Linked DNA regions of Homo sapiens: region 2 is linked to region 1. Evidence: fine-mapped expression QTL. A gene starts in region 1. The other region holds a variant in brackets. All regions are shown on one strand. Distances are between the middles of the regions.

The links. PIP is the estimated chance that this variant, and not a neighbour inherited with it, causes the effect. A credible set is the group of variants that fine-mapping cannot tell apart.
Region 2: its variant is the best candidate, but not a certain one, in a credible set for the expression of PRR13 in subcutaneous fat (GTEx, PIP 0.85).

What each region holds. Positions count from the first base shown.
Region 1 is chr12:53,440,008-53,444,392 of GRCh38, reverse strand. It overlaps PRR13 (proline rich 13), which reads right to left and starts at 2,659. Exons shown (of 4, transcript NM_018457.4): 1 at 2,601-2,659; 2 at 1,660-1,698; 3 at 620-1,002. The coding sequence starts at 1,678. RefSeq lists a silencer at 2,662-2,811 and enhancers at 3,102-3,191, 2,922-3,687.
Region 2 is chr12:53,384,821-53,389,205 of GRCh38, reverse strand. All of the region lies in intron 3 of SP1 (Sp1 transcription factor), which reads right to left. Among named protein-coding and RNA genes, the nearest start is that of SP1, 6.8 kb to the right of the region's middle. The variant A/G (reference allele first, on the strand shown) is at 2,298.

The DNA of each region.
Region 1 (4,385 bases):
GTGCCACTGCAATCTGGCCTGGGCTAAAGAGCGGGACTCCGTCTCAAAAAAAAAAAAAAAAAACCTCCTTAGTCCTAGGCTTTGTTAGAAGCCTAGTCACTGACTGCTCTTGTCCTCACTTTTTCTGCTGGATGATAGGGCAAAGGACCCATGTAATTAACACAACGCCCTAAGAACACTGATGAAAGAGAGAAGGAACTTCTGGAACTAGGGACAGATTAATTCTGTTAATTATTATAAGACCTTGCTTTGTCAAAGGAATGACTTTGGTATTTTGACAATGTCAGTGGGCGTGTCCAACTTGCTAGAATATGCACCTGGCGGGAGGGGAGCAAAAGTTCTGGGAGAGTAGGGCAGAAAAGATTTGGCTTTTGATTCTAAAATCCATTCTAAGGCTCACCCTAACTCCCCCCAGATAGGAGAAGCCTGATGTTTATTTTCAAGATAATCAGATTCTTCCCAGTAGCAATCTTTTATAAAAAGGAAGAATCATCTACCAGAGCGACACAATTGTCATCCCTCACGTCCACAGAATGTGAATCCCCCTCACCCAACCCCTGCCTACCTAGTCCCTCTGAGGGGGGACTCCTTCCCTAGCCAGTCTCCAGAGGGTACTGACCTTGCCATGCTTGTGGTACTTGTGGTGCTTTTGGTGCTTGTGCATCTTTTTATGAGCTTTCTTCATTTTCTTCTGCATCTTCTTGTCTACTATCACTGCTGGTCCAACCATGCCAGGAGCCAAGGGATTCACAGGAGGGATTCCAGGGGCAGGCGGTGGGTATGGAGGAGGGTAGGGACCCAACGGTTGGCATCCTGGATACCCTGGCTGTGGCACAGGATGAGGGGGCCCACCTGGGGGGAAAGCTGGATTGCCATGGGGAGCTCCTGGGGGAGGAGGACAGGGGCCTGGGGGAAAGGGTGGATTAATAGGTGGTGGGTGGGCAGGATTGGAACCTCCAGGGCACCCAATATTGGGGGGATATGGATTTGGCCCTGGCTGCCCTGGTGGAAGAAGCAGAGAATAAACATTAGAATTCCCCAGAGTCTCCAACAACAAACAACAAAAAGAAAGAGATTCTTTCTCACTCAATACTTAAAGGGAAACGGAAAGATGACAAAGAAGAATGGAGGGTAGGGGAGACAAACTTGAGTTGGGGAGAAAAGGGGGAATGTCCCTGGAAGGGCTAGGGAGAGGAGGGAGACAGTGAACTCTGAGGAAGACAAAAGCACTGGTCAGTCCAGGCGCGGTGGCTCACGCCTGTAATCCCAGCACTTTGGGAGGCCGAGGTGGACAGATCTCATGAGGCCATGAGTTTGAGACCAGCCTGGCCAAATTGTGAAACCCCCATCTCTACTAAAAATACAAAAAGTAGCCGGGCGTGATAGCATGCGTCTGTAATCTCAGCTACTCCAGAGGCTGAAACAGGAGAATCGCTTGAACCCAGGAGGCGGAGGTTGCAGTGAGCCTGGGCAACAGAGACTCCATCTCAAAAAATAAATAAATTAAATTAAATTAAAAAGCACTGGTCAGCTCTAGACTAAGGACTTTGCTTTTGCGGGTACAGCAGGTCGGGGGTAGGGGAGCTGATACAGAAACTTCCTGTTATAGAGCCCATCAGAAAAAGGGTTAGGGGTGGAACAGAACCCCCAAACACCTACCGGCATTGGGATTCCACATGTTTAGGTGTGTCCTCCAGCCTGAGGAGAAAGAAATGAGGCAAAAAAGATGACGGTCTAGAGGTAGGAAGTGGACTTAGCACCGGAGCCCAGCCCTAACGTCTTCCACCCCACAGTAGGCTCTCCTACCTGGAGAACTACCACAACTTCCACATAAGAAATGTCTCTTTTCTGGCTGGGCGCGGTGGCTCACGCCTGTAATCCCAGCACTTTGGGAGGCCGAGGCGGGTGGATCACGAGGTCAAGAGTTCGAGACCAGCCTGGCCAACATCGTGAAACCCCGTCTCTACTAAAAATCTAAAAATTAGCCGGGCGCGGTGGCGGGCACCTGTAATCCCAGTTATTCGGGAGGCTGAGTCAGGAAAATTGCTTGAACCCGGGAGGCAGAGGTTGCAGTGAGCCGAGACCGCGCCACTGCACTCTAGCCTGGGCGACGGAGCAAGACACCGTCTCAAAAAGAAAAGAAAAGAAAAGAAATGTCTCTTTCCACTTGTTTCTTCGCCCTCAATACCTACTTGGTTCCTAACACAGGAATCTAGTTCCCAGGGCCCCTCCACCCAGGTGGAAGCGTCTAACTCTTCGGAAGTAGGCAGTACCCGCGAGTCTCGGCCCCACCATCACTCATCTCCCTTTCCCTGGAACTGAGTACGGAGGCCTTTAACCACGCACAGAGTAAGAAAGGATCTCAAACAACTTTCTCTCTCCCTGGGGAGGACCCCACCTCAGGCTAAAAAAAGGATACGCCTCGAGGCGAAGTAAGAAGGAAGTTGCCCAAGAACCTCAAATACTTAAATATGTGGACACAGCCCCCTTCCTCCAAAAAAGAAAAAAGGCAAATGAAGATCCTAGCCCCAAGCTGCGAAGAGACTCTTGACCTAGCAAGGGGAAAAGGAAAAACCTATGGAATCCAGATACCCCATCACCTTTCCACCGCCGCCTGGGCTTGCTGCGTTCTCCTTCGCAGTCTCGGCTCTTCCTAGTCACCCAGACCCCGTGCTTCGGCACCCGCCTCTGCTACTGCCTAATTGGTAATTATGTGGCCGCTCGACTGATGATTAGACAACAAACTAATCAATCACTCTGGTCCGACTGAGGAGGAAACGGTTGCTCTAGGGGCGGAGCGGAGCCCTTTACGGCTAGGCCAGTACCGAGAAGCCGGAAATCTCCTGGGGGCGGGGCTAGGCGGAGAGCGCTGGAGGGGGCGGGGCCAGCTGCTGGGCAAAGTCCTAGAGACACCGAGAAGAAACTCTTCCCTTGCTCTCTTACCTCATGGTTCACTGGGTGCAATACCTTGTAAAATGAATACACTATGGTAAGTGTTGTAATACAGATATAGACAGAGTTCTCGGCAAGGGCAGAAGAGCTGCTGAGTCCCAGCCCCAAGCCTCAATGTTCCCGGCTCCGTCTTACACTCGCAAGGGAAGCAAACAAACATTCTTGCGGAAGATACAGAGATTTCATAATCTCTCCCAGGATTCCCTCTCTCAATTGCATAGCTCCGCCATCTGTCAAGTAGCCTAAACCAGAAACCAAGGAGGGCGTCCGTGATCCCTCTGCCTCCTTCACCTCCCTTACCCCAAATTATCAGTTTTGTCTCTCAAATATATCTGGAATCTCTCCACTTCTCTCTGTCTTCCCTGCTCCAAACCTCCCATCATCTGTCGCCTGGATTCATCTCTCCCCTGAATTGCTACAATGGCCTCCCTACAATGGCCTCCCTTTTTTTTTTTTTTTTTTTTTTTGAGACGGAGTCTCGCTCTGTCACGAGGCTGGAGTGCAGTGGTGCGACCTCGGCTCACTGCAACCTCCGCTTCCCGGGTTCAAGCGATAATCCTGCCTCAGCCTCCGAAGTAGCTGGGACTACAGACGCGGCTAATTTTTCTATTTTTTAGTAGAGATGGGATTTCACCATGTTGGCCAGGATGGTCTCGCTCTCTTGACTTCGTGATCTGCCCGCCTCGGCCTCCCAAAGTGCTGGGATTATAGGCGTGAGCCACCGTACCCAGCCTTTAAAAAAAAAAAAAAAATACAAGTGGCCGGGCGCAGTGGCTCACGCCTGTAATCCCAGCACTTTGGGAGGCCGAGGCAGGCGGATCACAAGGTCAGGAGTTCGAGACCAGCCTGGCCAATATGGTAAAACCCCGTTTCTACTAAAAATACAAAAATTAGCCGGGCGTGGTGACATGTGCCTGTAATCCCAGCCACTTGAGAGGCTGAGGCAGGAGAATCGCTTGAACCCGGGAGGTTGCAGTGAACCGAGATCACGCCATAGCACTCCAGCCTGGGCAACAGAGCGAGACTCCATCTCAAAAAAAAAAAGAAAGAAAGAAAGAAAGAAAGTGAGCTAGGCATGGTGGCACATACCTGTAATCCCAGCTAGTGGGAAGGCTGAGGCATGAGAATCGCTTGAACCTGGGAGGGAGAGGGTGCAGTGAGCCAAGATCATGCCACTGCACTCCAGACTAAGCAACAGAGCAGGACTCTGTTTCAAAAAAAAAAAAAAAAAAAAGTGGGATACAAAAAAATTTAAGACAATAAATTTTATGCCAAATATGTCATATTAAACTAAAGCATTTGAAATATTTTAAACTTTTTTTCTTTTAATTTTTATTTTTAGTGCTGGGGTACATGTGCATGATGTGCAGGTTTGTTACATAGTTAAATGTGTGCCATGCTGGTTTGCTGCACAAATTTTGCTGCACCAATAA
Region 2 (4,385 bases), 55 kb after region 1:
AAAATAATGAATGTAAACAGACTAAGTGAACACCATGGAAGCTGCAATCTTCCACAATCATGTAATATATCTCATTTTGTACAGTGATATATACATGTATCATACAACATTTCACATCCAATGTTCTTTCTACATCGTACCAAGAAGTTGAACATACTGCAAAAAGGTTAAATTTTACAGTAAAATAACTATCAGAGAAGGGGGTAAAATTAGATACTTTTTTTTTTTGACAGGGACTCACCCTACTGCCCAGGCTGGAGTGCTGTGGCGTGATCATGGCTCACTGCGTCCTCAACCTCCCGGGCTCAGGCAATCCTCCCACCTCAGCCTCCCAAGTAGCTGGGACTATAGGCGTGTGCTACCATGCTCAGGTAATTTTCATATTTTTTGTAGAGATGGGGGATCCCTATGTTGCCCAGGCTGGTCTTGAACTCCTGAGCTCAAGAGATCTGCCTGCCTTGGCCTCCCAAAGTGCTGGGATTACAGGCATGAGCCACTACGCCTGGCCAAAACAAGATACTTTTGCCAGCAGGAAGGCAAAAGCTGAAAAAGGAGTAAGCCTCTAGGAAGTGATTTTATTATCTTTCTTTAAGGATGAAGTCATATCAATTAAAGGGGAAATACTACACAATTATTACTAGCCAGAAAGGAGAAAACTTGGATCTTCAAAAACCCCTATTAATGAAGCAAACAATCTCAACTCTTACAAAACAGCCTGTCAATGCCTCATTATCTCCTTAGTGAATGTCAAGCTCCTCTTACCTTACAGAAACACACACGCATTTTCTTCAGCTCAAACACCATCAGTAACAACTAGGTAGCCCTAGTCTATGACATATTAAATGGCAGACTTCCCCAGAGCATGATTTAGCAATGAGAATGCCTCATAACTGTTCTCTAAACCCTAAGTTATAAGCCTTTTAGAAATTGCAAGGATCCAAATTATTAACAGGAATAATCCCACAGTTTGCTCTGAAGAAGAGCAAAACCGGGCACTTCAATCTAAGAGCAAATAGAAAATAAACATGATGGTGTAGGTTGCCCAGAAGTGTCTAATTTTCTACGTTGTAGAGGTCAGTTTTTATAAAACTTTTCCCATTTCTATTCCCATAAATGTTTAGTTTATAAAACATTTTTATAAATGTTTTATAAACATCTGTCAGTTTTAGAGCATTAAATCTTAAATCAAAAACACCTTTTCGAATACATTTTTTTTTTTTGAGACGGAGTCTCGCTCTGTCACCCAGGCTGGAGTGCAGTGGCACAATCTCAGCTCACTGCACGCTCTGCCTCCCAGGTTCACATCATTCTCCTGCCTCAGCCTCCCTAGTAGCTGAGATTACAGGCACCCACCACCACGCCCAGCTAATTTTTTTGTATTTTTAGTAGAGATGCGGTTTCACCATGTTAGCCAGGATGGTCTTGATCTCCTGACCTCATGATCCGCCTGTCTCAGTCTCCCAAAGTGCTGGGATTACAGGCGTGAGCCACCAGGCTGGCTCGAATACATTTTTAACAATCTAAAGAATTGTTCAAGTCCCTAGTTAAAACAGGTTGCACCCTAGACTAGTAAAACTAGCCTCAGCTCTGGCTGTTGTCTCATTAAGTGATTCTCTGTACCTCAATTTCCTCATCTAGAAAATAAGGCAGTTGTACTAAATAACTTCAGTCCCTTCCAGCTCTAACTTTCAATTCTAAGATTTCAATTAACTAAGAAAATTACTGTCTTGTTAAAGCTCAACATGTAGTATTTCTAAACACACCACAGGAATGTAAGAAATCAGGGAACTTAAGCAGACTTTCCCCCTAGATTTACCAAAACTGCAGGAGGCAGGAAATATGGTTGCCTATTTGCTACCCTCACTTATGTAAGAATCAGTTAAATGGAATGAGAACTTGGTAACAAAAGTAAACAATTTATAAACCCACATATATATGCCAAAAGAACTAGAAGTGGCCAGGCGCAGTGGCTCACGCCTGTAATCCCAGCACTTTGGGAGGCCAAGGCGGGCGGATCACGAGGTCAGGAGTTCGAGACCAGCCTGACCAGCACAGTGAAATCCAATCGCTACTAAAAAAATACAAAAAATTAATGGGCATGGTGGGACGTGCCTGTAATCCCAGCTACTCGGGAGGCTGAGGCAGAAGAATTGCTTGAACCCGGAAGGCAGAGGTTGCAGTGAGCCAAGATCGCACCACTGCACTCCAGCCTGGGAGACAAGCTAGAGTCAGTCCCAAAAAAGAAAACGAAAAAAAAAAAAAAAACAAACCTAGAAGTTGGGTGATATTATTTGGTG[A/G]TATTAAACTATTTTCCGTATTTGTATAATTGTGCCAGCATATAAAGATGTATGTGTATCCTTTTATTGTGCTTTATTAAAGATTAGCTCCATACAATGGAATTTAAAATGATAAAGTCAGGCCGGGCATAGTGGCTCACACCTGTAATCCCAGCAGTTTGGGAGGCCAAGGCAGGCAGATCACTTGAGGTCAGGAGTTCGAGACCAGCCTGGTCAACACAGTGAAACCCCGTCTCCATTAAACAAACAATTAGGCGGGCATGGTGGCACACGCCTGTAATCCCAGCTACCTGGGAGGCTGAGGCAGGAGAATCACTGGAACTCAGGAAGGGGAGGTTGCAGTGAGCGGAGATTGCACCACTCCACTCACTACAGCCTGGGCAACAGAGCAAGACTCAGTCTCAAAAATGAAAAAAAAAAAAAAAAAAAGATACAGTCTACATAGACTTACATCTGTTTACTGTTTTAAATTTCAAATTAATAGTGAAACATTTAGTTCAAAATGAAAGACCCTGAACATTATGGTCAACAGATTCAATATTCTTCCCAGACTGTTTTTCCCTTCAATGCTCTCCTCATTCCTAACTCTTCTCAATCCTACATCCCCCACTCCATTCCAGACCCCAACTTACCCCACTCCCTTTCCTTCTCCCTTCCTAACCACACACAGTACTTTCAAAGCAGTCTAGGAAGTTAGACTGCTACCTAGAAGTATCAGAATCACCTAGGATGCTCATATGTTAGTGTGAAGGGAAGCTATGGGATTTTGTTTTTCAGATAACTAGGAGTTAAAAAAAAATTCAATCCTGATTAACCAGCACACTCAGAGTGTGGGATATTCTGGTTAATACTAACCAGGGAACTTACTTCGTTGAAAAGCAACCCGTTAGATCATTTTCCCTTCAATTAGGAGTTACAGTTCACAAGAAATATCTGATGATTTAATCTGTGTTCTACAAACAGGTAAAATTCATAATCAATTTTTTTTTTTTTTTTGAGACGGAGTCTCACTCTGTCACCCAGGCTGGAGTGCAGTGGCACGATCTTGGCTCGCTCCAAGCTCTGCCTCCCAGGTTCAAGCGATTCTCCTGCCTCAGCCTCCCAAGTAGCTGGGACTACAGGCTTGTACCACCACGCCCGGCTAATTTTTGTATTTTTAGTAGAGACGGGGTTTCACCATATTGGTCAGGCTGGTCTTGAACTCCTGACCTCATGATCTGTTCACCTCGGCCTCCCAAAGTGCTGGGATTATAGGCGTGAGCCACCGCGCCCAGCCCATAATCAAATTTATTTTTATTTATTTTTTTTTTTTTTGAGACGGAGTCTCGCTCTGTCACCCAGGCTGGAGTGCAGTGGCGCGATCTCGGCTCATTGCAACCTCCGCCTCCCTGGTTCAAGTGATTCTCCTGCCTCAGGCTCCTGAGTCGCTGGGACTACAGGTGCGCGCCACCATGCCCAGCTAATTTTTTGTATTTTTAGTAGAGACAGGGTTTCACAGTGTTAGCCAGGATGGTCTCGATCTCTTGACCTTGTGATCCACCCGCCTCGGCCTCCCAAAGTGCTGGAATTACAGGCGTGAGCCACCGCGCCCGGCCGCCTTTTATTTTTATTTTTTGAGACAGGGTCTTGCTCTGTCAACCAGGCTGGAGTGCAGTGATGTGATCTCGGCTCACTGCAGCCTCTGCCTCCCAGGTTCAAGCAATTCTTGGCCTCAGCCTCCTGAGTAGCTGGGACTACAGGCGCGCATCACCATGCCTGGCTAATTTTTTTATTTTTAGTAGAGAAGGGGTTTCGCCATGCTGGCCACGCTGGTCTTGAACTCCTGACCTCAGGTGACCCACCCACCTCAGCCTCCCAAAGTGCTGGGATTACAGGCGTGAGCCACCGTGCCCAGCCACCCGACTAATTTTTGTATTTTTTTTTTTTTTCAGAGTCTCACTCTGTTGCCCAGGCTGGAGTGCAGTGGTGCAATCTTGGCTCACTGCAACCTCTGCCTCCCAGATTCAAGCAATTCTCATGCCTTAGCCTCCCGAGTAGCTGGGCCCATAGGCATGTACCACCACACCCGGCCAATTTTTGTATTTTTGT